2 separate regions of the Homo sapiens genome follow, and region 2 is linked to region 1. The links come from fine-mapping of genetic effects on gene expression. A gene starts in region 1. The other region holds a variant in brackets. All regions are shown on one strand. Distances are from middle to middle.

The links. PIP is the estimated chance that this variant, and not a neighbour inherited with it, causes the effect.
Region 2: its variant is fine-mapped to the expression of ZMIZ1 in whole blood (INTERVAL, PIP 0.95).

Annotation. Positions count from the first base shown.
Region 1 is chr10:79,061,961-79,076,665 of GRCh38, reverse strand. ZMIZ1 (zinc finger MIZ-type containing 1) reads right to left here and starts at 7,700. Exons shown (of 25, transcript NM_020338.4): 1 at 7,396-7,700. ZMIZ1-AS1 (ZMIZ1 antisense RNA 1) reads left to right here and starts at 9,218. Exons shown (of 10, transcript NR_024431.2): 1 at 9,218-9,278; 2 at 10,080-10,218; 3 at 10,847-10,919. RefSeq lists enhancers at 3,881-4,384, 6,690-6,739, 7,941-8,786, silencers at 6,940-7,919, 8,180-8,249, 9,050-9,259, 9,360-9,409, 9,450-9,659 and a cis regulatory region at 7,382-8,067.
Region 2 is chr10:79,277,416-79,291,983 of GRCh38, reverse strand. ZMIZ1 (zinc finger MIZ-type containing 1) reads right to left here. Exons shown (of 25, transcript NM_020338.4): 9 at 2,095-2,209; 10 at 808-1,025. Among named protein-coding and RNA genes, the nearest start is that of PPIF, 63 kb to the left of the region's middle. RefSeq lists enhancers at 4,712-5,362, 5,197-5,816, 5,363-6,013, 6,227-6,416, 6,867-6,986, cis regulatory regions at 5,141-5,641, 5,150-5,650, 5,166-5,666, 5,264-5,764, 6,252-6,752 and a silencer at 12,129-12,298. The variant G/A (reference allele first, on the strand shown) is at 3,130.

The sequences.
Region 1 (14,705 bases):
GATGCGGTTTCACTACTTTGACCAGGCTGGTGTCAAACTCCTGACCTCATGATCCACCTGCCTAGGCCTCCCAGAGTGCTGAGATTACAGGCATGAGCCACTGTGCCCGGCCCTGTTTTACTTCTCTCAAATTCACAATGCAACCACCCTGTAAAGACACATGCTGCTGGGCAGGGGCTCTAATGCCAGACCAGGAGTGTTCCACACTCCCCTGGCTGCAGAGGATCTGGGAGTCTGGGAATGCCACTGAAAACTCCCCATCCTTCGTCCTCACCCTGAGCACTCAGAAGTGAACCCCACCCCCAAGGTTCAGCTGGGCCTCTCATCAGACCCGAAGAGCATTTATTAATGAGCTCAAGAGTGGCTAAGGGGGGCTGTGCCAGGCCAACAGCACACACTCAATACATGTTTCATGAGCTAATGGACTGGCGGAGATGGGGTTCCAGGCCCAGATCGGTCACCCATTCGCTGCTGACCTTGGATGAGACCAAGTGTTTCTTTCCATGGTTCAGTTTCCTGGGCTAGGAAAGGAAAGGCCAGACCAGGTAACGCAACCAGTTCCCACTAATTTTATGCTACAAGCTTAGGAATTCAAACCCCAGAGTCAGAGAGGTTCACAGTGGAAGGGGCTTTCCAGATCTTTCCCCGAAGCTCCCGAGCTAAGAGGAGGGCAGCACAGGACCTAAGTGGGAAGATCCAAGGCACACCGTCCCCATCCTCCCTGCCAGTCATCCCCTGCGGATTGGGAAGTGAGAATGGGGTGCGGGGAGAGAGGACAGATCTCCATTTAAGCCAGACACCAAAACAGAACTTTCGAAGAAAGAGCTGGGGAAAGTACAGTGTATGTATTTTAACACACACCCCCATCAGAACAGCTTGGCCATTTCCTGATCTGCATTGAATCAGAGGCTCCAAGAGGGCAAGTATCTGGCTAAGAGTGGTGGGGGAGGACGGAGAGAGCTCTCAGGTCTCAGGACCCTGGGCCAGGCAGCCGGAGTCCTGGCAGAAGCCCTGGCCAGCAGGGCCAGTGTGTGCATGTGTGTGCAGGTGTGCATGCGTTTGCATGTGTGCAGGTGTGCATGTGTGCATGTGTGTGCATGTGTGTGCAGCTGTGTGCAGGTGTGCACACACACAGGGCTGGGGGAATATAAGACAGGTAACTGCCAACTGGGGAACAAGCTTGGGGACAAATGAAGCCCCCCAAGCCCTATCTCTAGGGGCAGAAGTCTCTGGAGGGTTCACTAGTCCCTGGAAATTCCAGACTTTCCCTGAAGTGCCTAGGGACAAATATCCCAAAGTCAGACCACTAGTCTTTGATGCTCCACTGCTACCAGCCATCAAGGTCCTGAGCCAGTCTCTGTCCCTCTGTGGGCCTAAGTTTCCCCATCTGAACAGTGAAGGGTTTGAGCTGGGTGATCTCAAAGGGCTATGTCCACTCTGACAGTCTGCGATACTCAGTTTCTACAGAAAAACACGACACCCACCATCACTCAAGCCCCCATCCTCAAGACCTAAGAAGGCAGTCCCCAGGCCCTCAGCTGGCTGTCTAGGGGTGGAGCTGGGGCTGGGGCAGAGCACAGTCCCCCCACCGTCTGTCCTCAACAGCCTGCCACAGCCGAAACCTTCAAGTGGTTACAATTACAGCCAGACTAACAGGATTAGGGGAGCATTGAAATCTAAGAAATCTAATTAGCTCAGACACCCCAGCCTCCCCCAGCACAATCCTGCAGTAACTCCGGCAGCTGGGCCTGACAGGCAGGGCCTGGGGCCCTCCCAAGCCACAGTCATTACCTGCACAGGTGTGCCAGGCTGGGCCAGGCTTCCTGGGGAGGTGCCAGCTCAGCCTGCCCGGCTGCTCCCTGGCCTGAACCCCACTAGCTACAGCCTTGTCCTAGGGTGGCACTCAGCTGAGCTACAGAAAACCAGGCCCAAGGGTGGAGGCTGCAAGGGGCAGAAAGAACCTAAGGTCTCACACGGAGTGGGTGCCCCACATAGCCTGGGGACTGACTCAGCCCGAAGAGGGACTACAGAAACCATAGGAACCCAAGGAAGAGCACTGGGCTTCATGGGGACCCGGGGGGCTGGAAACACCTCTGCCTCCTACTCCAGAGCCGGAGAAGGGCATGAAGCCCCATGTATAGACCTGTGTGCCCTGGGCAGTCAAGGCAGGATTTGTGTCTCGAAGCAAGCTCTGGCTGTAAGACACTGTGCCAAAAGAAAGGGACACAGCTACTGGGGGCATGGACCATGTGCTGCCATATGGGAGGGGGAAGACAGGTGAGGCCCATCTGTGACCCTTCCTGAGAATGGCTCCTCCTTCACCTCATTCCCCCAGCACCCAGTTTTGGAGCCTATCCTGACTCTGCACCGTGTCCGAGCCTGGCTGGAGCGCTCACTCAGTGGACTGGAAAGGAGGCAGCGCAGGGGTTGGTATCGGTAAGGCCTGAGGTTCAGTCCTAACTTTGCCACCAGTTGTTTGACCGCTCTGAACCTTGGTTTTCTGCTCTGTTAAATGGGGATAATTCCAAATAGTAACTAGCTTACACTGTTGTTATTGGGGATAAACAAAGATGGAAAAAGCTTCTAAATCCACCAAGTACCATACAAAGGAGAGGGGCTGTGGTTATTACTGTCATCACGCGCCCGTGGCAGGCAGCCAGCTGGTAGCGGTTAATTATTTATTTGGACTGATCTTCCTGCCGGCACTGGACTGTGGGCTCCTGAGGAACAGGAACTGTCTTCCACAGTTCTGGTCTCTCCCAGGACACAGTCTTTATCCACAGGGTGGACACTCACAGTCAACACCTGTGGCACCCATGCCGGGCCCGACCCAACCCCAGCCCTCATCACGCACCCCCTTCCTTCTCATACCCCGCTCCAAGGAAAGTGCCCAGAGGCAAACCTGGCACACAAAGGCAGATGACAGTGAGCACCCCCAGGCAGACCCTTCCCCCTTCTGCACCCCCCACAACAGGTCATTCCCAATAAGGGCTAGAAGCAGCCACTTGAATGTGTCCCCCTACCTAGGGGCCTGCCTAGGCACTGGTCTTGAACCCAGGATCATTCAGGAAAGAACGAGTCTATGGTCTGGAGGGCCCCCCAGCATCTCAAGCCCAGAGTGGGGTCAGGAGGTGTGGATTTGCAGAAGGCATGTAGCAGAACATGTTAACACTCACAACTGCCCACTGAAGGCAGAGGCTTCCAGGAGGTAATGAGTACCCTGTCCTGTGGGGGGCATGCAAGCCAAGACTGGACAATCAGCTGCCAGGGAAGTAGGTCTGGATGAGAGCAGCTTCAGCAAAATGCTTCTAGCACTTGCAATCTAAACCCTTTGTGTTCTACCCATTCTGTACCCAGAGCCTCCCAGGCCTTCAAGGGACACATGCCTAGGGGACTCATGCCCACATCTGCCTCATTCTCCCAGCAACCAAGTGGGATCGGAGGAGTTCTGCCCTCAGACCCATTTTACAGATCAGGAGACTAAGGTCCAGCACAGGAGAGTTACTGGCCCAACACAGATAGCAAGCAACAGCCTCCTGACACCTTGGTCCTCTCGCCCATCTCCTCCGGTAATAGGGAGACCCTCTCAATCATGATGGGGTCTAGCCTCTCCCCAGAGCCTATGCCTAGGACTGCTTTTCTCAGCCTTCTCCCTTCATCCTCTCTAAAGGCAGGGCCCAACCTCAGAACGCCCCGGAGCTTACAGCCAGGTGGATTGCTGCCTCCCCATCCTGAGGGACTCTTAAGGACAAAGAGCACTCCCCCAAAGGGCATGAGCAGAGAGCACTATATCCTGCTAAGAGGTCAGAGCTGTCGCCAGGCAAGGCTGCAGCAGTGTCCTGGGTAATCGTGGCAGCCTGGCCTTTGTTGTCCACACAAAATCTAAGGAGCCTCATAAAGACCAGGCAGCAGTGACAGGGGCTGGGCCAGGGCCCTGGGGAGCAAAGTTATGAATGAAAATGTAGAGGACCCAGCCACGAACCAGCAGGCCCTGCTTCCTGGTCCCACGACCAAGTGCCTACAGAAGCTTCTGGAAATTAATTGGTTGGTGCCTGAATTTCTTACAACAATGCCTCACCCTGAGGCCAGGGTCATGGCCACTCGTTGGACCCTCAGGGTCAGTGGCTTTATACGCAGGTATTCTTGTGACAAAACTCTCAGGATGCAGCAGGCCTCAAAGTGCCTTCCTTCCTAAATCCCTTCACCCCTCCCGCCATCAGGAAGAAACAGGAAAAAAAGTGAAGTCTGCAGCTCTTCTCAGTTGGGTCCTTGCCCCTGCAATTTTCTGGAATGAGTCAAGCATGGACACCTGTCCTATGTTGGAGGCATATCTATGGGGGCCAGGGATGGAGACATCGTTGTTATTGTGGCTAGGGAAGTGAGTGTGCGTGCGCGCGTGCGTGAGGGAGAAACTGGTTCTGTCGCCAAACCCCGCAGTCTCTGGACCTTTCTTCATTTTGCCCCTGGCTGTGAGAGGAACAAGAACCCTCCTCCCCCCTTTGCTTAGGAGGGAAAAGGGACATTTTGTCCCCACAAAGAAGCCAGCAACCCTTTTCTGCATAGACAAGGCTATTTATTCATAAGTCCAGCAATTTCTTATTCCCAACTCTTCTCAGTAAGCCCTACCCAAAATGCCAAATCCACCTCTTGAATCCACTCCCTACTGCTCCCTTCTCCTCCCCCCACCCAGCCCCCACCCCCAGTCACTGCCACCAACTCTCAGAAGTCTAAACTTTTGAGATTTACATGTGAAAACAGCGTTTCAAAACCTCGTGATTTGGGACAAGGAGACGCTTCTGTCCTTTGGGGGAAAACAAAACCCAACCGAAAATCATAAAGCTCAGAAGAAAACACCATCTCCCTCCAAATGCATTCCCTGGGCCCCCAACTCACACGTGCTCTGTAGCAGATAGGGCTTTCAATGTGTCTTTTGTTTGATGCTGATGTTTCAACATCCTCGACTTGAAGAGGGAAAGGTCAGCCCAAGGCTTGGGGTATTCACAAACCCACCCGGCCCCTGCACTGGGGCCAGGAGCCAGCAAGTGAGGGGCCAGGAATTTCCCCCACTCTGGACCCCCTCACAAAGCAGCCGGGGCTGAGAAGGCTAAGAAAGAGCTTGCTCTCTCATCTCAACTTCCCCGATAGCTCAACAGCAGCTTCACACTCCCGGGACCGTACAAGCGCCAGCGAACGCAGGCTGGAATTCACCAGCGCCAAGCTGCCCGGCTCTCCAGCCCCGGCGCCTGCCTCTTTATCTGTACCTTCAAAAACAGTAATAAGCAAACCCAGGCACCTCTGGGAACAGCCTCTGGCCTCCTGCCCTGCCCTGTGTAACCAGCCTGTCCTCACACCCACCAGGGAGGAGGAGTCGGCACTGGTTAACCCTCTGGTCTACCAGGCCCGGTTCCCAGGTTGCAGCAGGGAGACAAACTGTTGCTCAAGAAAATCCTTCAGAAAACCCTTGGCACCAGGAGGCAGCTCGGAGCGGCTCTGCACCCGGCGCGGAGCCAGGGGCTTCCACAGGCGGCCGCCCACTGCCCTTTTAAATCTTTGGGGCTGGGCCCTACTCTCCCATGCCCTGGGCTGTCCACCCAGAGGGCTCCAAATGTCCGTGGCAGAGCAGAGAGGAGGGAAAGGCTGGCCGAGCCGTGCCCTCACCCCGCCAGCCCAGCCGCCAGCTTCTTGGAGGACCTCTGAGAGAACATTTGTTTGGGCTGCCAAGTTAAATCTTCCTCCCTCATGTCAGGGCATTGGAAAAGCAGTCAGGGGAGAGGAGAAGGGGGAGAGCGCGCGGGGGAAGGAGCAGCGGGAGGGAGGGAGGGAGGGAGGCAGGCGGGCAGGCTCAAAGCCCCAGTTACTCGGGCACTGCCTACCCAGGAAGCTGACGGCTCCCGGGCAGGCGCAGCCGGGGCTCCGGGCACCGAAGCAGGGACCCGGCCGTCAGGCCTCCCCGGTCAGGCAAGGGTACCAAGCACCCTTGGCCCACCTGGGAGCGGCCCTCGCTCTGTGACCTGCTGGAGGGACGAGGTGGGAAGGGAAGGCAGAGAAGGAAAAAGTTTGCTGCAGGTAGAGGGGTAGGGCTGGGCGGCAGTGCCGACCGGCTGTCCCCGGGGAGGGGTGGGGGGCCCGGACCGGCTGCCCTGGCGCGCTCCCGTCCGCCCGCCCTCCCGCCCGGGTTGTTTACATTCCTGGAGTGTCTTTTAAACCCGGGGCTGAGGCCGGCTCCCGGCCTTCTCCGGCGGCTCCGGGGCAGTCTCCCGTGAAAATCTGCTGGCGCACAATGGCCGGGAAGGCGGCCGCCCCTCGCCCGCGCCCCCACCGCTCCAGGGCGGGGAGCCTGCCCTCCGCACCGCGCCCTATCCCCGCCCGGCCGGCTTCCTGGACAGATGTCCCCAGCGAGGGGGCGACGCGCGCCCGCTGCCCGCGCCCTAGACGCCGAGGCCGCGCTCCCCACTGTTTTTTCCCCAGCCCAGACGCCAGGAATGTGAAGCAAGCTTCCAGAACCCGCCTCCCCCCCCCGACCCCGGCTCCAGCCCCGGCCCCCCAACCTCCGCCCCGGCTGGCCTCCCACTCCCCCGGGGCCACCGCCGCCGGAGACGGAGAGGAAGAAAGAACACGGGGAAATTACTTTCGTATTTGCAACGCGCGCGCGCACACACACGCACATCTTCCCCCTGGGCTCCCCTCCTGGCCGGGGCAGCCCCGTCCAGGCACTGGCCTGAGCGCCCCTCTGGCTTGCGAAGCCCTGGGAGAAAACCCTGCACACACACCTCCGCGTTTCTCGTTTGTACCGCGCGCCAGCTTTCCCCGGGCAATTCCCACACAAACAACTTAACCGCGCCCCCACCTCCCATTTACAAAAGTGTATGTTTTCCCTGGAAATTCAGACGCACAAGTTAACACCACCACCCCTTGCCATCCTGAAATCCAGCGCTTTCCCCAGCGGTTCCTGTACACACACAGGCGCACAACTTCGCATCTCCCCAGAGGAGGCGAAGGAGACCGAGGCGGTCCTTCCCTCCCTCCTCCGATTCCCGGTCCTGCCCGGCCCCCGGGTGTAGGGAGCGAGGGCTGGAGGCGCGCCGGCAGGAGGCGGGCACCGGGTCCGCGCGCGCACGACCACACTTACGCCCCGCACACCCTGACAAACCCGGCCCCCACGCGCAGCCCAAGCCGGCTCCGCGCAGCCGGGAGCTCGCCGGCCGCCGGGCCTCGGCCCCCGGCCGCCAAGGAGAGCGGAGCGGAGCCCGCGCCGCCGGCCGGTCGCCCCGCTCCGGGGGACACTTTAAGGGAAAAACCCCAGCACCCAATCCCCACGCTTGCACCCCGAGAGTCCCCGGGGAGCGGGAGGTAGCCCCGGAGCCAGCGGGCGCCTGGCTCTGGCCCCAAACTTACCGGGCGCTGCGAGCGCCGCTGCCGCCGCTGGAGGACGCGCCGCCGCCACCGCCGGGTAGGGCAGGCTCGGGCCGGGAGGAGCGCAGCGAGGGCGCCGAGATCCGCTCGGCTCCGGCTCCTGCTCCGCGCCGGCTGGGGCTGGGGTCACCGCGCTGCGCCGGCGTTGCTCGCTCGCTCGGCCGCCCGATCGCTGCTCGCCCGCCTGCCGCCCGGCCGCCCGCTCTCCCCGGCGCCCGCCGCCGCCGCTCGCTTTTTTAATGTCCACAGACAGTGAAAAGGAACTCGGCGTTAGGGGGTGAGTAAGTGAATCAACTCGCCCGGAGCCGAGCAAGTTGAAGTGTCAGATTACATTGGCTATTCTATTTCCAAAGGGCCCCGCGCCGCCGGCCGCCCGCAAAAGCCGGTGCGGAGTCAGGCCGGAGTGGAGCGCCGCGCCGCGCCGCCGCCGCTGCCGGCGCTCGGCTTGGCTCGCGCTCTGCGCTCTCTTTCCCCTTTCCTTTTCGCCTCTCCTCGTTCTCTCCCTCGCCTTTCCTTTCCTTTCTCTTCCTCTCTTCCTCGCTCCTCGGTCTCGGCGCTCTCCCAGCTTTTCTTCTCCTGGCTCCTGGTTCCCCGCTACGCCACCAGTCCACTCACCTCTCTCCTTGCCCTACTCCCTCCGCTACTCCCTGACGCCCCCTGCAGCCCCCAGCCCCCCTGCAGGCCCCAGCCCCAGTAAGTTTGGAGAGGGGAACAAATGCTGAGCCTAGGTAGGGACCACCTTGGGGAGGAAGCCAAAATCACACTGCTCACCCGAGAGCCCCTGCCCCGCGCTGGCACGCCCCCGCCTGGAGTGCACTCGTGGCCCCGGGCGCTGTCAGGTACCCGAATTGGGGTAAGCGAGTTGGTAACTGGACCTCCAAAGCCTTCCCCTGGGGTTGACTTTGGAATTGTTCCTACAGCCCGGGGACTGGTGGTTGGGGTGGGAAGAGGACCACCACCACCAAGGGTGACTTTGAGGGAGACTAGAGCGCGGCCCCCCGACAGCTGTGGGGGAGCGGGGGTGTGGTGGCCACAGTTGATCCGCGGCACCTAGCACAGTCCAGAGACGCGTGGATTCCCCTAGGCCCGGCGCGGAGCGCCCGGGGCGCTGTGCGCGCGGGCTGCGTGGGAGCTGCTAGGCTGGGGCCTGGCCCTCTGCCCCGGACTGGGCACTGCCAGAGATAGCGGAGAGCTAAGGTACTCACGAGGCGCAGTTGGGTGCACCCACTCGCGGGAGTTCCCCTAGCCGACCCACCCCCCCCCCCCGAGAGCATCCAACTACGCGCCCACTTTGGCTCACGTCCACTGCCACTCTCACGGAAACTCCTACAAGAACGGCACACACGTTCGCTCCCTCAGCATTGCAAACACGCTCCCCCCCAAACCACAAACGCGCCCCCACACACTCGCTTACTTTCCCTCACAAAGATGCCCGCTTACACGGCCACAGCAGGCACGCTCAGAGACACGCAGTTACACACACACATCGCTGTACACAACCCCACATACAATCAAAAAACAAAACACGAAACGTTCCCCTGGGCACTAAATCCTCACGTTAACGTACACACACAAACACACGCCCTCCTCTCCCACTTCCTCTTCCATACCCCTTCCTCGAGGCCCCCCACCCCTGATTTTCGGCACCCCCAGTCCCAATCATAATTGGCGCCCGCGCAGCCCTCTTTGGACACACACGCGCCGCCCACGCACGCGCTCCCCTCCCCGGCAGGCGGGGGCGGCTTCGGCCGGGAGCCGGCGGAGCCCGCTTCGGATTCCAGGTGTGGCAGTGACTCCGCGCTCCACGTTTTGCAGGCTGCCACCGTGTCGGAGGCGAGGCGAGGAAGGGAGCTGGAATAACAAAGGCAAGTTGGGGAGAGCGCAAGGGGGCGCAGCCCCGGCCGGGCTGCGGGGGGAGCCTTGCACGGCCGGGGCTTCGGAGGCTGCAGGGTCGGGGGCGCGGGGAGCCGGAGGTGGGGGAGGAAGGGTGGGGGGAGAGGGGCGGGGCTGAGGCGTGACGTCAGAGAACAATGACACCGCCGGGGGGCGGGCACCCGGAGGCGGCCCAGGCGGGGGTCTCCCCCGGGGCCTGGGGCGGGCCGAAGATGTCCAGGCCTGGCCGGAGCCGCCTCCTGATTGACGAGGCCCGCATGGGAGTGCGGACGTGCAGCACAGATTTGCGGGTCTCCTGGGCCTCTTGGGCGGTGATCAGCGCGGACCTTGGGCCAACCGGGGAAGCAGGCCGGAGCACTACCCCCCACCCCCATTTTAGAACATCCTTCTGAGGGCTTCGCTGACCTCGGCTTGAACTCCTTCAGAGCCGGAGAGATCACTCCTTCCACCACCGAGGGAGAGGAGGCAAAATGAATTTGCCAGCTTTGAATTCATTCTCAAGGCTCCGCTAGTCTCACAGCCAGTGAACTCAGTCTGGAATTCCTGAAAGCTCAGAAAACTGCTGCTTAGGTCCACCCGGGCGTGGGGGACGGGGTGTGTGGGGGCGCAGGCGGCGGAGTGGGGGCGTTATTTTATTTTCCCCAGGGGAAATTCTGCCTCCCTATGCCATTGGGTGCAAGAAAAGGCACTCCTTTGGGGCCTCAGTCTTCCTACCTGTCACATGGACATGGACTGTGATGACTGCTGCTCTTCCACCCCCGCCCTCCCTGTAGGTGGCAGCTGAGCATCCCTGGAGAGGGTGGGTGGTATGAAAGCACTTCCAGACCTCTAGGGACACCAGGGAGTCATGGTCCCAGCACATTGCTGTGTGATTGAGCCCCTCCTCAGCCTGTGGGTGGCCTAAGTTCACAGGTAGGTACACCAGGGCCACCTGAGAAACCTCCGAAGGTAGGAATTAAGCTTGCAGAACGGTGGCTGCAGCCACAGCTGTCCCACTCCCAGCAATCCACAGCATTGCAGCAGTGGCAGCAGCCACCCCATACCCAGGTCCAAAATCCCAAAAGAGAGTTTCTGGGTATTTAAGGATTTGGGATGTGATAATCCAGCCCAGCCCACAATTAGACCAGTTCTTGTTGCCTTAATGACCAGCTAGGTCTGGACGCCCAGCCCTCTCAACCTTTCTGTCCAGATTCCTCAATAAGTATCCAGGGCCTGCCCACTTCCAGGAATTGGGGGATGCAGGTGACCTCGGAGGTGACCACTCATGTTCAAAGTCTCCTGTCCAGAAGCTCCACCCCCTACCCCACATCCCAGCCCCCTACTCTCCCACCAGTATTTACATCTGAAACCCAGGAAGTGGCTGCAGAGGGCAGAGGAGCCAAGTAGGCTCAACTTAGTAGCATGGAACCAGGGATCATTTCAACCCTCCCCTTCTGTGCAAGCATGGCAGCAAGTCAGAAAGCCCACCAGGGTCCTGGGTCTTCCCTAGGCTCCAGTCCTTGGGTCTCTGAGGCCCTTGCTCTCTTTGTTCATCTTCCAGGGAGGTAATGGGGTAGATTGGATACCTCTGGGGTCTTGGAAGAAGCTATGACTTATTTACTGTCTACTATGTGGTGAGTACTGTGGTGGGTCCTCCTAGGTATTGAGAATTCAGTTCCCTGATTGAACTGTCACATTGTCTTAAGTTAGGTGCCGCTACCATCCCCCTTTCAGAGGAAACTCAACTGTGAATGACTTGCCCAAGATTGGTCAGGATGGGAACTCGGGCCCCCATGAACAGAGTTTCCTGTTGTCCCCTCAGCCCTGGCTCTGTTCATCCATAGACTGTGTAGCCCCAAGCAAGCTGCTTTCCCCCTCTGAGCCCCTGTAAGGTCCATGGTGCCATCAGGACTCACTGGGAACTGTGTGTCCAACAACCTCACCCCCAAAGTCTCAGCCTCACTGGGCCTGGAGATCTGCTGGTGAGACAAGAGAGGACAGTGCCATCACTTCCTCGTGGCCCAGAGCTGGAAGATGCATCCTGCTCAGCCCCTGCAGGCCCAGAAGTCACCTGGCTCCACTAGGAGGGCATGGGCAGTGTGGGGCCGCCAGGTTGTACCAACCTTCAGAGCACACTCAAGTGCTGTTAATTTCCCTGTCCTGTGGGAGCCACCAGCAGATTGGGGAGAGGACCATTGCTGGGGCCTGGGCCCAGGTTTCAGGAGGCAGAAAATCTGGAGGCCAGCAGGATGGTGGGGGTGGGAGGCTTGAGGTCCCTGAGGGAAGCAAAGGACTTGTGTAGGGTGCGGCGAGTATGGCCTCCTAGGCTGGGCTGGGATGGGGGCGGGTACACAGTGGGGATTCCCACCTGTCCAGGAGCTGCCTTCTCTGTCCCCACTCTCCACCTCTCACTTCTGGAACTTAAGGGAGCCAGGGAACATCTAAAATTGAGACTAGAGAGGTGGGAAGAAAATCTCATTCATTGAGTACTTACTGTATGCCACGCACTTTGGAAACATTCGTTGTATTCTCTCCACAAGCCAGGTGTCATTCCCTGCTAAGGGAAGAGGCTCAGAGAGGTTAAGTGACCTGCTCAAGATCTCATAGCTGGCTGAGCATGGTGGCTCATGCCTGTAATCTGTGCACTTTAGGAGGCCAAGGCAGGGTAGATCACTTGAGCTCAGGAGTTCGAGACCAGCCTGGGCAACATAGCAAGACCTTGCCTCTACAAAAAATACAAAAATTAACCAGGCATGGTGGCACATACCTGTAGTCCCAGCTATTTGGGAAGCTGAGGTCGGAGGATCACTTGATCCTGGGAGGCTGAGGCTGTAGTGAGCCATGATTGTGCCACTGCACTCCAGACTGGGCAACAGGGCATGACCCTGTCTCATAAAAACGAAACAAAACAATAAAGATCTCAGAGCTGCTAAGTGGGTGGAGCCGAGATTGGGCTCCAGGTTGGGCTGGGCCTTGAGGTTGAGAATAGGGACTTGCCCTCATCTCACTGCCAGGTTATGGTGCAGATAAGGTAACCTACCAGGTACTTTGGGGTGAAGTAAAGACTCTCACCCACTTGCCAGGGAATGACCAGGGTGCCTCCCATGGCAGTGAGGTAATGGAGATTACATTTAGAGTTCACCCCTTGGTGGATACAGGAAGCATTTGGGCCCTGCCCAGCTCTGAGCCCTGTGCCTCTAAGAGGTGAGTGGTTGGGTCAAGCAGGGAAGATCTATGTCCTTCAGCGAATTAGGCTCCCCTGCTCTGCCTCCCCCTCATTTCCAATCAGATGGCCCCTCCATTCTCTGAGCCCACACCTTCCCATCCTCCAAGGCTTGACTCTCCAATGTCCTTCCCTCAAGCCAGCCGTCTTCTCACTTTCTACCATGGAGTTCTGCCCTATGGTTCGAGACCCAGTTCAACCACCAACCCCTTCTTCAGATGGGAGTCACAAGAGAATAGGCTGGGAGCCTGCCTCAGGAGCCGGGACACCTATGTGCCCAGCCCGCCATTGCCTGACTTGCTGTGTGGCCTGAGCACATCACAAACTCTCCCTGTGCCTGTTCCCCATCTGCCAAGTGAGAGAGTGTGGGATATCCACCAGCACTTTTGCCTCTGATTGTCCTAAGATTCTGTAGGTCTGAGCCTTTAACCCTTGGACTGAGCTACAGTTCACTTTAGAGTTTGAGGGCGGCCCTGCTTTAGGGAGGGCTTTCAGAGGGGGCCATTTAGTGGAGTAGGGACAAGAAAATACCTGGAGGGAGCTGCTCAGAACTGTGACTATCTAGGACTGTGAATAGGTAATGACCCTAACGCCTCCCTTCATGAGGCACCTCTCACCCTCTGAGCCTCACAACAGCCCTTTTGTGGGTGACTAAGCTGAGCCCCAAAAGGAGGTGATGGCTTTCCCTGACTGCACCACTGGGAAGCACCAGAGCTGGAACAAGAGCCAGGTCTCAGCCAGGCATGGTGGCACATGCCTGTAGTCCCAGCAACTCGGTGGGGGGACAAGAGGGGGTGCAAGAGCCACATCTCCTCATGCAGTGTCCCCTCACCTGCGTCAGGGCCCCTCCAGAGGAGCAAGTACATGCGGCACTGATGAGGAAGTCTGGGACAAGCGACCTGAGGAGGACCATGCCTCCCACTTCCTTCCTGATAGCTCCTGCACCCCGAGAGGGGTGGGGGAAGGTCTCAGATCCTCAGCATCTCTCCTCCTTCTGGCTGTGCAGTCCTCCAGCCTCAAGACTCATGCTTCCTTGCCCTCACCTCATCCTGTGGCCATGCAGGGTGACTTCCAGAATTGCCAGCATTATGTACATACTCTTACCTCTGTGCCATTGCTCATGCTCTTCCTACCTCCTGGGACACACCCCTCCCAGTCACCAAGGCCACATCTGCAACCACTTGCTTGGAAGCCTACCCTGATACCTCCACCAGATGTGCCGTCTTCCTTGTCTTAACCCCCATATGCTGCTCTCCCAGCCTCCAACATCAGCATAACCATAGGAATTACTTGTGAAGTTCCTGCTATGTTCCAGGCATTGAGTAGCTCATACACATGAACTCCTCCCATCCTCTGAGCTATTAGTATTCTCATTTTACAGATGAGGAAACTGAGGCACAGGGAGTTTCATTTCCTAGTATGACACCTCACAGGCTAGGGAGGTATTGTGTTACATGGCCCTCTTCTGTCAAGGCTGCAGGTCATAGGATGGCTCACTGCTACATCCCATCACCCAGTGCAAGGCCTTGGGGGCTGACAGGCCATCCGGAGCAGGGGAGGTATAGAGGCCCACAGGATGGAGGATGACCAGAACCAGCCCTCTGGGGGCTCACAGTCTCTCAGGAAGGACTGCCCACACCAAATGCCATTCTTTTTTTTTTTTTTTTTTCTTGAGACAGAGTTTTGCTCTGTCGCCCAGGCTGGAGTGTGCAGTGGTGAGATCTCGGCTCACTGCAAGCTCCGCCTCCCAGGTTCACACCATTCTCCTGCCTCAGCCTCCCGAGTAGCTGGGACTATGCCACCATACCCGGCTAATTTTTTGTGTTTTTAGTAGAGATGGGGTTTCACCATGTTAACCAGGATGGTCTGCATCTCCTGACCTCATTATCCACCCGCCTTGGCCCCCCAAAGTGCTGGGATTATAGGCATGAGCCACCGCACCCGGCCACCCAATGCCATTCTAAGAGTTCGGGGAAGAAGAAGAGTTGGCATTGAGTGGGTCCTGGAAGGCAAGCTCTGGTGGGGCTGTGGGGAAGCCAGAGTGGGGCATGGACCTGCCTAAGGTCACACAGCAAGCAAGTATGAGACAGCAGCAGGGCTGGGACCTGGAGCTCCCAGTGTATCATGCCTTCTTGCACCTTGCAGCCAGCTGTGGGGCCCCTGCGACTGTGCTGTTTTCAAGGACACACGGTCCCAG
Region 2 (14,568 bases), 220 kb before region 1:
GCTCCTGGAGCCCTTGGGGGTGCCTGCACCCTCACTGCATGCTGTCGGGGCCCTGGTGAGCCCATCTTCTGAAGGACACTGAGTCTCAGAGAACCTGAGCAACTTGCCCAAGGCCCTGCAGCATTGATGGCGGAGCTGCGGCTGCAGCTGCAGGTGTTTCTGATCCCTGTGTTTAACCACCAGGTCATATAGCTGTGCCAACCCCAGGCCAGAAACCCAGCCAGGGCTGGTGAGGGCTGAGGCCAAGGTGGGGGTCTTAGGCAGGGCGGGGTGGAAAGAGGAGAATGGGCACCTCTGCTCGCCTCACACCACTCCCCAGAGCTCCATATCCTGGGAGTCCCTGCCCTTTTCTTCCCAGCCAAGGGACTCGCAGTCTCTGCATAGTTCTGCTTTCACCAATCAGCAAGGCAGAGCAGATATTCCCAGACTGCTTCACTGTCTTTGGGCAACTGGACCCCATCTATACCTGCTCTTCGACTTTCCCAATCCAGATTTTCTCAATATTTTCCTATTCATTAAAGACAAAATTTAGAGAAGGGTTGTTTTGAGGTTTTGAGGAGTAAGAATGTCACCTCTCTATTTCTACGAGTCTGACGACTGTCAGAACACAGGCCAACTGCTGCAGCGCCTTATCTGCAGGCCAGCCCTGGGAGCCAGGGATGACTGAGCCCCTTCAACTCATGTAACAACAGAGGATAACTTCTCAGGGCAGAAAGCGTGGAGCTGGGATTTAAGTGGGTCCCTCCCCACTGGAAGGAGGAAGAGGGGTGGCGTCCATGGCTTCTGCCACAGGTCAGCCCTGCTCACCTGGCCCCAAAGCCCCCGCTGCCGGGGTAGTTGGGCCGGCCATACATGCTCTGCTGGATGTAGGGCTGAGCGGGGCCAGCCTTGGCTGAGAACTGCTGCTGCTGCCCCGCAAACTGTGGGGAGTTGAGGCCTGGGTTGCTGGTGGTCATGCCCGACGCCATGGGGTTGCCGCCTGGATTCATGGGGTTGTTGGCATTGGCCATAGGGTTCCCAAGGACCTGTGGGCAGAGAAGTGGTTGTCACCTAAGGTGCTACCCGAGGCAGTGTGGAGAGGAAGAGGGATAAATGAAGAGGGGAAAGGGAGAAAGAACAAAGTGGAGGCAGGACAACAGGGAGGAGGAAAAAAATGGAGGGTGGATGAACTATTCTGAGTGTACCGGTGATAAGGAGCGGGCCTGGGCGGCAGGTGGCGTGGGGGATGAGAACGTCAGCCTTGTGATGGAACAAGCTGAGGGTATGACCAAGCCCCACAAAGCCAGTTCAAGCGGTCCCCAGGGGCTGCGCAGCCCAGTGAAGGGAGAAGAGGCTGCTCTTGTACCAGGTACCCGTGGGGAGAGCCCTGGCCATGAAGCCTACTGCCCCACAAACGAGCCTGGATGCCAGCGTCTTGTCACACAGGGGCCCCAAGGCCCCTGGCTGCTGCTCTGTGAGGGCCAAGAGGAACCCACCCTGCTAGCTCTGGAGGGCAGCAGGAGCAGGCGACAACCGGTCAGCCCAGTGGCTCCCTCCAGGGTGACAAGCAGCCCTGAGCCTTCCATGTAGCCACAGAAAAGGCTGGCAGAGGTCAGACAGGTGGGAGACTCCCTGACTGGGCAGAGGAGGAGTGGAAGAGAGAGGAAGGAATGAGAGGGAGGTGGGTCTGACTAGGGCAATGGGGAGTAGGGAGTTGTCAGAAGTCCAAGGCACAATATTTTGATGAAATCCAACTCAGGCCATACATCCAGGGTCAGAGACCTCAGACCTTGGAGCCCTGAAGCCAGTAACACAGAGGAAGTTCTCCTGTTTACCAGAGCAAATGGGCTAGGGAAGAACCCCTTGCTGTCTGTCAGATGAATGCCATTCCTCCAGAAAGGCCTTAGGATGGGGACAGTCCATAGAGGCTGCCCTCCTGAGGCGGGTGCAGAGCCTGCCAGGGGTGGAGACGTGTCCACAGCTGGGTGTGCCCTGGAAGCTGGTCTTTCCAGCAGGGCAAGGCCTGTGAGGGTGAAGAGGGCTGGTATGGCTCCAGGGGTCAAGGGACACTCCCGCCTAGAAAGAGCTGTGGCTGAGGGCAGTATAGGCTCTTACCTGGCTCTGGGATGTGTTGGTTACTCCCCAAACCGTGGTGACCACGGAAAGGGAGCCGGGAGGCTGGTTGGTGTTCTGCTGCCAAGGGACAGAGTCATAGGGGAACGACCCATCACTGCAGAGGGAGACAGAGGGAGATCTTCAGGGCCTGGCAGGCACAGACTCAAGACAGGCCATGCCCATCACCCCACCAAGTGACCGCAGCTCCCAGTCAGTCCAAGGTAACCCCCATCCGAGTCGGTACTGGACCCCCCAGGCCTGTCTCAGTGCCCAGTGCACAACAGTGTGCCCTGCATGGTGACAGGCTGTTCAGAAGTGGCCACCTTTCCCCCGATCACTGCAGAGAGCTACTTCCATGGCTGTGTGTCTCCCTGTATCCCCGAGTCCACAGGTCATGCAACTGATGAAGTGGTGTGACCTGAGGCCCAATCTGAGCTCCTCCTTCACCCGGGCTCTGACTCCACGTTGCCCTTTAGGAAGAGCCTGGGCTCCCCCAAACCACCTTACCCTTGGAACTGCTTGGTCCCTTCTCAGTACAGGCTGGAAGGGTCCGAGTCTGAGGGTGTCAGCCCTTCCCTCTACCTCCCAGCCCTTCACAGCAGCCTGGCTGCCTGGGCCATGGGAATGCAGGCTTTCTTCCGGCACCCTTCCTTCCCAGCCCCCAGCAATGTGGGTACAGGCCTACCTGCTGCACACCCTCTCCTGCCCCCACCCCGATCTCTCATGTACATTTTCCCCAAGCTAATCTCCCTCAAACACCTAAGATGCCTGGCACAATCAAAGACCTTTGGTGGCTTCCAGCATTTATAAGGCAGAGTCCAAACACACACTTAAGAATGACTTACTCCTCTGGCGGACCCCACCATTCCCTCACCCCGCTTTGGCTCTGTCCTCTCGTGGAGCTGCCCCTGCCCCTAAACACTGCCTCCTCTCTACCAACCCGGACCATATTTCCCCTCCTCCCCTCACCAGGTCCAGCAGTACCCACCACGTTTGTGGACATCTCCCCAAGGAGCTCTCACGTATCAGAAGCAA[G/A]GAGTTAGCCTTCAGCCCCACCTCTTGTGCTTAGGTCTACAGTGAGTGTCCAGTGATGCTTCCTACCGACTGCTGGGGTGCACAAGAGTGAGGCCAGCAGATCCCAGCGAAGGGGCAGGGCATGAAGACCTGCCAGGGTGCCAGCCCCCAGGAGGCTGGGGATGAAGCTGCCTCTCCCACCAGAGCCGGCACTGGCTCTCTGGCACCACCCCCTCACCAAGTCACAAAATTCTAGATGTGGAACCAGGAAGAGCAGAAAAGCAAAGCGCCCACAGCTGTGCCACTGCCTCTACCCAGGGCACAGGGTGTGTGTGTGTGTATGTGTGTGTGCGTATGTGTGTTGGGGGAGGGAAATTGGGAGAAGGGCCGGGCAACAGGAAAGAGCCTCATGCCTCTGTCTGGCTTGTGTCTGTCTTAGTCACAGGAGACAGCAAATGGCAAAGGTTCTCAGTCACACCTGGCAGACTTGTACCCTAGCTGAGTGGCCAGTCCAACCCTAGCAGCCAGGGCAACTGGGGATGGAGGTGCTGAGGAGGCACCTCTGGGGATGCAAGGAGCCCAGCCCAGAGGTGAGGACTTCCCAGAGGGAGGCGGAGGGCTGCATGACCCGCAGGCAGCGGAGATCAGGGCAGCCAAGTCTTGTGCTCTGTGCCTTGCCCGGCTGAGCTCTTGGCAATGCTGGTCAAGTCTGACGGGCTCCTGCAGAGGCGACCAGCCTGGAGGGCAGGACCACACCACTGTCTGCTCATACTTGCCCCTCCCCTGCCTGGATACCCTCTGCCCTAGATTTCTCAGCCTGGCCAGCCCCTCGCTTTCTTCCTGTCTGAGATCGCTGGAGGGGCCTCCCCCGCCCTCCTCGTATAAAAAAGCAGCTCCTACCCGACACTGCCTGCCCCCTCACCCTGGCACTGGAATTTTTTTCATAGCACTCCACCACTGTCCTAATTATATATTTTTTTGATTATTGTCTGTCTGCCTCTAGAACAGCTCTGTGACGGCAGAGACTTTTGTGCTTAGGACCCTGGTGCAAGTTTCCTCACTCAATCTCCTCATCTGTAAAATGGGCATCAGATGATACCTCCCCACTCTACTCTGTGTTTTCCAACTGTGGGTTACAGAATCTGAGCAGGTGATGACATCCAACCAGCAGGGGAGAAAAAAGCATCAACTAGAAAGTGATGGAGTGTGAGCACACAATAAAGATGAAGATTAGTCCTTGAGCTTCTGTCTTGGTTTTATACACAAATACATGTGCACCTTGGGTCAAGGTGTCGTATGTGTATTTATCGTGGATCTTGGTCAAATAGGTTTGAACACAGGTTCAGCAGCCTAAATCTGATGTGGCTCAAAGAGGAGAATGCAGTCAAAGGGCTTTCCCAACTGAGCGCTGCTCGTGATTTCTGGGGAAACTGCAGGACTCGCATTTGGAGTAGAGGAGCTGTACTCAGGGCACTCAGTTGGCCAGGCACAATGATGGGTAGTGGCTTGTTGAAGATCCAGATGCTTGGGCCAAAGGTGACAGATAGCGACAGACTCTGCTCTCCAGGTGGCGGATTGGAGACTGGGAGCCCAGAGGGAGTGGGCAGTGCAGAGAAACACAGGAAAGTAGCCATGAGCCTGCTCCTCAGGAAGGCTGGGCTGGAACAGCCTCTGTCTCCCAGGGAGGTCACTGGGGACCCGGCACACCACCTGGTTCCAGACTGGCACACCAGAGTCTCACAGGGAGGCTCTACAGGTCACGCTTTTACAAAACAAAGAGGAGATCCCCTGGACACCTGCTGTCCTCAAGGCCCATGTCCTAGGTGTGCTGGATGACCAGAGGGGGTCCCCTACATCTGAACAAAACCCAAGCCTGAGTGGCTTCTCGCCCCAGAACTTCTGCCCCACAAGTTCCCACCAACCCTCCAGGCTGATGGCCTTGAGACGGAAGTTCCTATCCTTTGAGAACATGCCTGGCCAGGCTCAGGAAATGAACCCCCATGGGAGGCCCCAGGGGCCGGCAGGGCCCTGCCTGTGGCCAGGGAGTGGGCAACTGCTGCCTCATCACCTCAGCCCAGGACGCTACACAGGCCCACGAACAAGCTCCCAACTGCCCTGCAGCTCCGTGGGTGAGCCTTGTGGGCGGAAACCAGCTCCTTCCTGTTTTGTCCCCTCTGCCCCAAACTTGGTGAGAAGCAAAGCTAACCAACGTTCCCAAACTGGCCATCCCACTGCCTGGCTGGAAGGTTTGCCGCCCCAGAGCAAAGATGCACGCAGGCATATGGAGGACACATCCGTGCACACACGCGAGGCCCTGCTGGCATGCTGCCCGTGCACTGGGGAAGAGACAGGCACAGCGTGTGGGGCAGTCTCAGGACTAGCTTGCCTCCACACGCACCTGCTGCAGAAGCAGAAGTGGCAGCCGCACCGACAGGACCGTGACTCATCTCATTCTGGGGGAGACGGGCTCCTGCTGTCGCAGAGAAGGCTCTCGCCCCCGCAGGCCCCCACAGCAGCCCTGCTGATGTGACGCCACTGCCTAGACTCAAGATACCACCACCGGGGGAATGCCTGGTCCCTGTTCCCAAGGATGAAGGACCAAGCAGACCCCTGGGCTGCTACCAGAAAGGCATGGCCTGGCTGGGATGGGAGGAGGGTCTGGAGGGTGCCTGAGAGCCCTTCTTCTCTCCGACGAGCACAGTTTAACCTGCAGACTTGCTTCACCTGGTCACAGGTGCTTGGCATTTTTTAATAATTCTGTCCCACTCTGTACAACCCTAATCCAGCATGGCCTGCCCAGTATCACACCATAAGCTGCTCCCAGCCACAGTCCTGTCCAGCCAAAACGGCCCCAACAATCCTGCTCCACCCACAGAAGCACCAAGGCCAGAAGCCATCTGCAATGTCAGCAGCAACGGTTCCATTTGCCAACTGCTCCCTAATACAGGGGCCTCTGTGCCTCTTCTCAGGCTGGCAAGTTCCATCCCACCTTGAAAATGCCATTCATCCTTTCCAGGCTCTTCCAAAGGCCACCTCCTCCGGGAAGCCCTTGCAGAAGGTACTGAACTCCACTGGCTCTTCGCATTCCTGGCAAGAGTGAGAACCCTCTGCCTTCTCCCTTCTGCCTCAGGAGCTGTCACTGATTTCTTGGGCTCCCTGAGCCAAGCATGATGTCTTCACACACCAATAGGGCTCAGGAAACCTTTGCTAAACAAAAAAATGTGCCAGGGAGAAACCACCTCTCTGCACTCACCCTTGGAGTGATGCTGAAAATGAATATGTCCATTTCGTTAAGCCTGATGACCGACCACCTACACAGTGTGTCTGTGGCCACATGGCCACTGGGGCCCAGAAAGTGAGAGAAGGACACAGAGGGAAGCGATGAAACCACTGCTCACTCTCTGTATGCCTCAGCAACCTCATCTATGAAATGGGGCTGATTCAGCCCCTCCCTTCGAAGGCTGCCGTGAGGGTTAAGTGTAAGTGCCTAACATGTATGAGGCCCAGAGTCCCGCACACCTTGGACACCCTGAAACTGCTGGCTGCCGCTGTTACTGTTGTTCTGATTTACTGAGTGACTTCTAGATGCAAGGAATTTTGTGAAGTGGCCTTCACCTAAGAACTCATTCAGTGCCCCATTAAGTGGGCCCAACAGATGCCCATCTTAGAAGCTGGGGCTCACAGAGGTAGCAGAGCCAATCAAGGGCAAGGCTGCCGGGTCACCAGACCGTATCAGGCTCACCACTGTCTTAGGAACTTAGGATCCAGCAAGGCAACGCTCCCCTCTCCAGAGATGGCCACGAGGCAAGGGAGCACACTGCAGAGGCCACCTAGAAGCCACAAGAATTCCAAGAAGGGCTGCATCTTCCTGGGGGTTCTTGGGGAAGTCGCCTAGCACGAAGGGACAGGGGAAATGTAAAGATGGGCCTCAAAGCCCAGCTGCAGAGAAAACCCAAATAGTCTTCCAGGAAAGAATTTCTTTATACACTAAATCGTCTGCTTTAGCTTGTACTGGCCGTGTTGGCAAAGATTCAGGGACCCCTTTTTGAGGTTAATATTCAGCCGACAGAGGGAGGCCCAGCAGGAGAGAGGTTCCCTATGTGGGCTCTGGAGTTACAGTCTTCCGGGTCAAACCCTGGCTCTGCCACTGAAGCTTTCTGTGGCCTTGGACATGTTACTTTCAGTCAGCCTCAACTTTCTCATCTGTAAAGTGGGACTAACACTTTCCTAAGAAACATGAGAAAAAAGTAAAGTTTAGCACAGAACCTGGTAGAAAGACCCTGCTCAACTGTACTTACACCTTTCTCTCCAGTCCTCCAACCAGCCATACACAGCTACCCCTGTTTACTTCAGGATACAATGAAAGTGGCCTAGGAATTTTTCAAATATGCTACCAATGGGAGGAGCCGTTTTCATTCCTACCTGTCAACTAGAAAAAATGTGCTTCTCAAGCCTCTGAGACTTTCTTCATTTTTCTTCTGCCTTCCCTTCACCAGCCAGCAAACTTCTATCCATACTTCAAAGCCCAGCCTGCATACTCCCTTTAAGGACCCTCCTAAGCAGAACCAAGGACACTTTCCTCTGTTCCCTCAGCACTTTTTTCACGTATTTTATAGAGAGCTCTCTGCACTGCAGTCACAGTAGACAGTTTACATGTCTGTGCCAGCTCCACGGGCAATGATCGAGGTTTTGCTGAATGTGAGAAAATGAGCAAGGCCTGGGATAAGGCAGTGATGATTCCTGGCTCCTGTGCACCCGCTATGGCAGCATCTACACACACATTCATGAAAGGAACGCGGGGGGAGGGCTGAGTTATTTCTTCCCTTGCACTTGTAATAGCTGCTTTATTTGGGAGAAATAACCAATTTCCATTAAGGGTATTGTCAGACTCTAATTAATTTCCCTGATCCAGCCATACTGGTCCCGTCTCCGTGCAAGGCTGTAGTGTTACTGCTAATGAAATGCCAAGCCAGTGAGGAGCTGAAGCTCCCACCCTGTTTAATTTAGGGGAACCATTAACAGTGTTCTCCATCATCACAATTACTGGGGCCTACTTCCTTCCCTCCCTGCGGTGAAACTTAGGAACTTGTGCAGCTAACTGCATATTAGAGGGTGTTAAAACTTTTTCAGTAGGAAGGAGGAAAGGAAAAAATCCTTTGCATCTTGGCCATCTGGAACTGATGGTGCAGGGATTTATGGGTCTTTCAATTCTCCCCTTTCCTTCTTTTTTTGTTTTTAAAATGTTCTTGGGGCAACAAAGCCCTAACATAAACTGAGCTTTGGTGAAGCTATGCAAAACCGAGCTAAAAATGGCAGCTGTGGAGATGGTGTGATGTGGCTGGTTTTGATTGCCCCCTTCTTTCTTGTTTGGCCATGAATAAGCACTTAAGAATTTGATGGCACCTGGCTGAGGATCAGGGGAATAATGACTGGTCCATGGGCTCCCAGTGTGCCAGGCTTGGCGACAAGCACACCACTCCTGCCACTGTTGTCACTCCCCTTCTACAGATGAGGAAACCGAGGCACAAGGAGGGTAAGTAACTGGCCAGTTACCCAGCTAGAATATGGCCCAGCTGAAACTCAAGGCCCAGCAGCCTGGCTCCAGGGCCTGTTCCCCGACCTGCTATACTCAGGGGATGCCAGGGGCCCTCCCGCCCAGAAGCCTCTCTGTTGGGGTTCATAAATCCCGCACCTATAAGAAGGAGGAAGGCACCTCTCAATCTTGGAGGCTTCCCCAGCCCTAGCGAGTTTTGACTGTAATCAAATTAACAGCATAAACAAGATTTATTAGGCCTTTAATTACCTTTGCAACACTGATCTGCATAAGGACAATGTGCTAATCACAAATGGCTTTTTAAACCACTCATTAAAAATCTGGAAGAAGGAGGTTGAAAGACTTCACTGGCTTCAAGTCCAGGTCACTGCAGGGACTTGGAAGGTGCCCTACTTGCCCAGGCACTGGTCCTGGACCTTGCCAGGCCTCTCTGGCCACCTTCTCTTGTATAGTATCCTGGGTATCTGTGAGTATAGACGGCAGCCCCACTGCAGCCAGTGATGAGGACAAAACAGGGAGTGAGCCTACAGACGTCCACAAACTGAGGATAATTAGTATTCCTCGTCACCACCCTTACCCCCAGATATAGCTGCGGGGCTATGGCAGCCTGACCCTTTCCTGACATCCTGCTCATGCGGCACCATGTCCCCCATCAGCAGGGAACCACGAGGCCAAGAGGTCAAGGGTCTTGCTGGGAGGCACAGCATTTGTGTGGAAGAAAGCAGGCCCTGACTCACAGCCTCATGCCGCAGTGCCAAAGCTCTGCAGCCTGCAGCAGACATGATTGTGACACCCGAGCTCTCCAAATATGACAGTCACCAGGGACCCTCCAGGCGTCTGCCGTCCCTCGGGGCAGGGCGGGGCTGCAAGTGTCCAGGCTCCCTCATCCTCTCCCATTTGTTCGTCCTCAGAGCCTTCAGACAAAGACCCAGAGCCTTCAAACAGCCAGATACCTGCGGGCATCAAATCTCAACTGTCCCAGCTCACCCAAGCTCACCTCCAGCTCAATGTCGCCTTAATGAAAAGGCAAAAAGAGCTTCCTGCCTCCAAGCCATTCAATAAAATTATGGAGGATGACGGACTAAAACAGTTTGCTAATTGTGAAAGCGCTCAGCTTTCTCTTCCATTTTCTTTCCGTCTTGTTTGGGAAATTGCACTGAGGACTTATGAGGTGTTGGACCCCGTTGCAGTTTCCCTGGAAATGAGGGATTTATCCTTTGTGAAATTCCTAAAGGTTGCAAGGAGAGACTGTGTAACTTTCAATTGCCTAACCACAACGTGTCCTCAGAATAGCCTGGGGCTTGGAGAAGGAACACGGGCTATTAAATGGGAAAAAGGTGAGCTGTGGATCAGAACAGATGACCCTCTTCTAAAAAGACCCTCCAAATTGGGTTAACAACGAGATACCACCTCGTTGACCCTGAAGGACCAGCTAAATAGCACAGCCCTGTGCGCTGTTTAATATCTTCCTCTGCCCTTTACTGGCTGTGTGTTCTGGGGCAATTCACTTTCCTACTCTGGGCCCAATTTTCCTTCCAGTTCTGCCATTCAAAGTGTGGGATGTTGTCTAGCAGGCCCTCCACCTCCCTGTGCTCCCACGAGGAAGCCTCGCTCCACGGAACCGACTGGTTAGCCACCAGTACTCAGCGAGTCTTCCAGCCCACACAGCTTTCCTTTCTCTGACAGACCACTTATGGCCCAAAGAGTAAGTGCCAGCCTGGTCTTCAAGCTCTCAGACCACTGGCTTTGCATTCTAGGTCATTCTGCTGGACTTACAGAGAGCTGAGGCCATGGTGATGGAGGCAGCAGGGCACTGGGTGCTGGCCAGTGGCTCTTCGGCCCATAACATTTCTTGGGAAAGCCAGCTTGAATTCATAGAATGCAACTACCCCTCCCAGCCGAAGTCCTTCAAGTTCAAGACTCCCATCCTCTGGGCAGCCTCCTGACAGTCAGCCCTGTCCATCTTCCTCCATCTGAACCCCAAAGCCCAGTCTGCCTGTCAATGAACCCTAGTCCTGCCCTGCTCTGCCAGATTCCAACGTGGCCCCAGTGAGTCTTATTTCCCCAACTAGCTTGAGGCTGCTCCTCGAGCACAGAAATACCTCATCTCTGTTTAACCCCGGGACCGAACAACCTCATGCCTTAGCTCAACTCAGCTGGCAAAGGGCTGGCCGAGATCCAGATTTGTGGCACTCTGTGACCTGAACAATCACGGTCAAGCAGGTCTGAGGCTGGTCCCTAGTGGGGAGCTGCAGGGCTCTGGCCCACCATAAGCAACAACTTTACTAAAATAACTTGGAGGAGAGAAGCTTGGGAAGGTCATGACACATAGGATGATGAGAGGAGGATGATTCTGGAGGGATGGACGGCTGAGTTAGAATTAATAAGGTAAAGCTTCCCGAGGGCAACTGCAAGGTATGCTGCTTAAGTGAAATGCAGCTGCAGCCTGTGCTCAGCGGCTTGGTTCAGATGAAGACAAACTGTGGCTTTTAGCAAAGGGTACACAGAGGGAGGTGGAGGCAGGTTTTGTCTTTTTAGAGCAGCGGTCCTTAACCAAAGGTGAGACTCAAATGTGGGAGGGTACTTTTATTGTGATAATGCTTAGGGGAAGAGGGCAGTCATCAGAAGAATGGGGTGGGATTAACCAAGCGTGGGCATTAAAAAAAAAAAAAAAGAACAGAGTGGGTAGGGACCAAGACGCCAAATGCCCTGCAAAGTCCTGCACCAAGAAAAATTACCCCTGTGTCAGACAGGTGTAGTGGTGCATGCCTGTAATCCCAGCACGTTGGGAGGCCAAGGTGGTAGGATTGTTTGAGCCCAGGAGTTCGAAACCAGCCTGGGCAACATAGCGAGACCCTATCTCCACAAAACTATAAAGAAATAGCCAGGTGTAGTGGTGCATGGCTATGCTTCCAGCTACTCAGGATACTGAGGTGGGAGAATCGCTTGAGCCAAGGAGGTCGAGGCTGCAGTGAGCTATGATAGTGCCACTGCATTCCAGCTTGTCCAACAGGGTGAGACCCTGTCTTTTAAAAATAATAATAGGCCGGCATGGTGGTTCATGCCTATAATCCCAGTACTTTGGGAGGCTGAGGCAGGCAGATTCCTTGAGCTTAGGAGTTCGAGACCAGCCTGGGCAATGCCATCTCTACTAAAAATACAAAAAATTAGCCATGGGTGGTGGTGAATGCCTGTGGTCCCAGCTACTTGGAAGGCTGAGATGGGAGGATCACTTGAGCCCAGGGGCGGAGCTTGCAGTCAGCCGAGATTGCGCCACTGTACTACAGCCTGGGTGACAGAACCAGATCTTGTCCAAAAAAAAAAAAAAAGTAATAATAATACCCCTCTCCCTCCCCCTCTCCCCTTTGCACGGTCTCTCCCTCTGATACCTAGCCGAGGCTGGACTGTACTGCCGCCATCTCGGCTCACTGCAACCTCCCTGCCTGATTCTCCTGCCTCAGCCTGCCGAGTGCCTGGGATTGCAGGCGCGTGCCACCATGCCTGACTGGTTTTCCTATTTTTTGGTGGAGACGGGGTTTCGCCGTGTTGGCCAGGCTGGTCTCCAGCTCCTGACCGTGAGTGATCTGCCAGCCTCAGCCTCCCAAGGTGCCGGATTGCAGACGGAGTCTCGCTCACTCAGTGCTCAATGTTGCCCAGGCTGGAGTGCAGTGGCGTGATCTCGGCTCGCTACAATCTCCACCTCCCAGCTGCCTGCCTTGGCCTCCCAAAGTGCCGAGATTGCAGCCTCTGCCCAGCCGCCACCCTGTCTAGGAAGTGAGGAGCGTCTCTGCCTGGCCGCCCATCATCTGGGATGTGAGGAGCCCCTCTGCCCGGCCGCCCAGTCTGGGAAGTGAGGAGCGCCTCTTCCCGGCTGACATCCCGTCTAGGAAGTGAGGAGCGTCTCTGCCCAGCTGCCCATCGTCTGGGATGTGGGGAGCGCCTCTGCCCCGCCACCCCGTCTGAGATGTGAAGAGCACCTCTGCCCGGCCGCGACCCCGTCTGGGAACTGAGGAGTGTCTCTGCCCCGCCACCACCCCATCTGGGAGGTGAGGAGCGTCTCTGACCGGCCGCCCAGTCTGAGAAGTGAGGAGCCCCACCGCCCGGCAGCCGCCCCGTCCGGGAAGTGAGGAGCCCCTCCCCCTGGCAGCTGCCCCGTCCGGGAGGTCGGGGGCAGCCCCCGTCCGGCCAGCCGCCCCGTCCGGGAGGTGGGGGGCAGCCCCTGTCCGGCCAGCTGCCCCGTCCTGGAGGTGGGGGGCAGCCCCCGCCCGGCCGCCGCCCCGTCTGGGACGTGGGTGGCGCCTCTGCCCGGCCACCCCGTCTGGGAAGTGAGGAGCCCCTCTGCCCCGCCACCACCCTGTCTGGGAGGTGTACCCAACAGCTCATTGAGAACGGGCCATGATGATGATGGTGGTTTTGTCGAATAGAAAAGGGGGAAATGTGGGGAAAAGAAAGAGAGATCAGATTGTTACTGTGTCTGTGTAGAAAGAAGTAGACATAGGAGACTCCATTTTGTTCTGTACTAAGAAAAATTCTTCTGCCTTGGGATGCTGTTAATCTATAACCTTACCCCCAACCCCGTGCTCTCTGAAACATGTGCTGTGTCCACTAAGGGTTAAATGGATTAAGGGCGGTGCAAGATGTGCTTTGTTAAACAGATGCTTGAAGGCAGCATGCTCGTTAAGAGTCATCACCACTCCCTAATCTCAAGTACCCAGGGACACAAACACTGCGGAGGGCGGCAGGACCCTCTGCCTAGGAAAACCAGAGACCTTTGTTCACGTGTTTATCTGCTGACCTTCCCTGCACTATTGTCCTATGACCCTGCCAAATCCCCCTCTCCGAGAAACACCCAAGAATGATCAATAAATACTAAAAAAAATTAAAAAAAAGAATTAAAATAATAATAATAATAAATAATAATAATAAAAAGAAAAACTACCCTGTGTAAATGCACTAAGGAACACTGCTACAGAAGAGAAGCTTGGAGCTGCTCAGCAGCCAGACCCAGGATCTGAGGAGGCAGTGCCCTTGGGTGGTGGTGGGCTTGCGATGGTACAAAGGGCTTATGACCAAGGCAGGCAACCACATGTCAGGGGCAATCAGGCCCAGGGAGGGCACTGGACATGATGAGCACTAAGGTCCTTTCCAGCTCAGAAAGTCAACAAGCCTCTAATTCGATTTATAAAGCGTGGCTGACACCCGAGTTCCCAGCAGCACCTCGATGGTGCGACCCAGGTCTGCCTGCAGTGTGCTCTGGGCTGCGGGTCCCTCAGTCAGGCTGGATAATGAGAGCCGAGCTCTGACTGCAAATGACCCTCCTGATCATTAGCGGAGACACACACAGGGGAGAGCAGACAGCATGACAGGCCCTGTTGTTGCAGGGTCAGCCTGCAGAGCGCTCAGAGAGAGCATCCCCAGCTCAGCAAGGGACTCAAAAGATAATTAACTGGGGGAATTGCCAGTCCTGGCCACGTGCTCCTTCTGAGGCTGGCACAGGTGGACTGGACAATCCCTCGGTGCTGTCGGCCTCCAGCAAGCCCATGCCTGCCTGTGACCCTGGGCTTCTGGTGGACCCAGCCCAGTCTTACTTGGCTCCAGGGTGGCTGGCCTGGGCTGGCTCTGTCCCCATCTTGGCTGGAACCACCAACCCCGTGGCCTTCCTGAGATCCCTGTCAGCCCCTGGTTTCTCTGGGTTTGCCCAATACCCTGGTCAAGAAAGAGGGAAGGTGCTGAGCTCAGAATTTCTAACGTTCTGCCAGAAGCCTAGAACCTGAAGAAAAACAGCCTCCACCAAAGTGACAAACTCAGTGCTTTCAACCTGTTTGAGAGGGAGAAACAGGGCTCACCCACGAAGATGTAAAAAAACAACTGCACCTTAGAAAATGCAACATCCTCATGGTTGCACA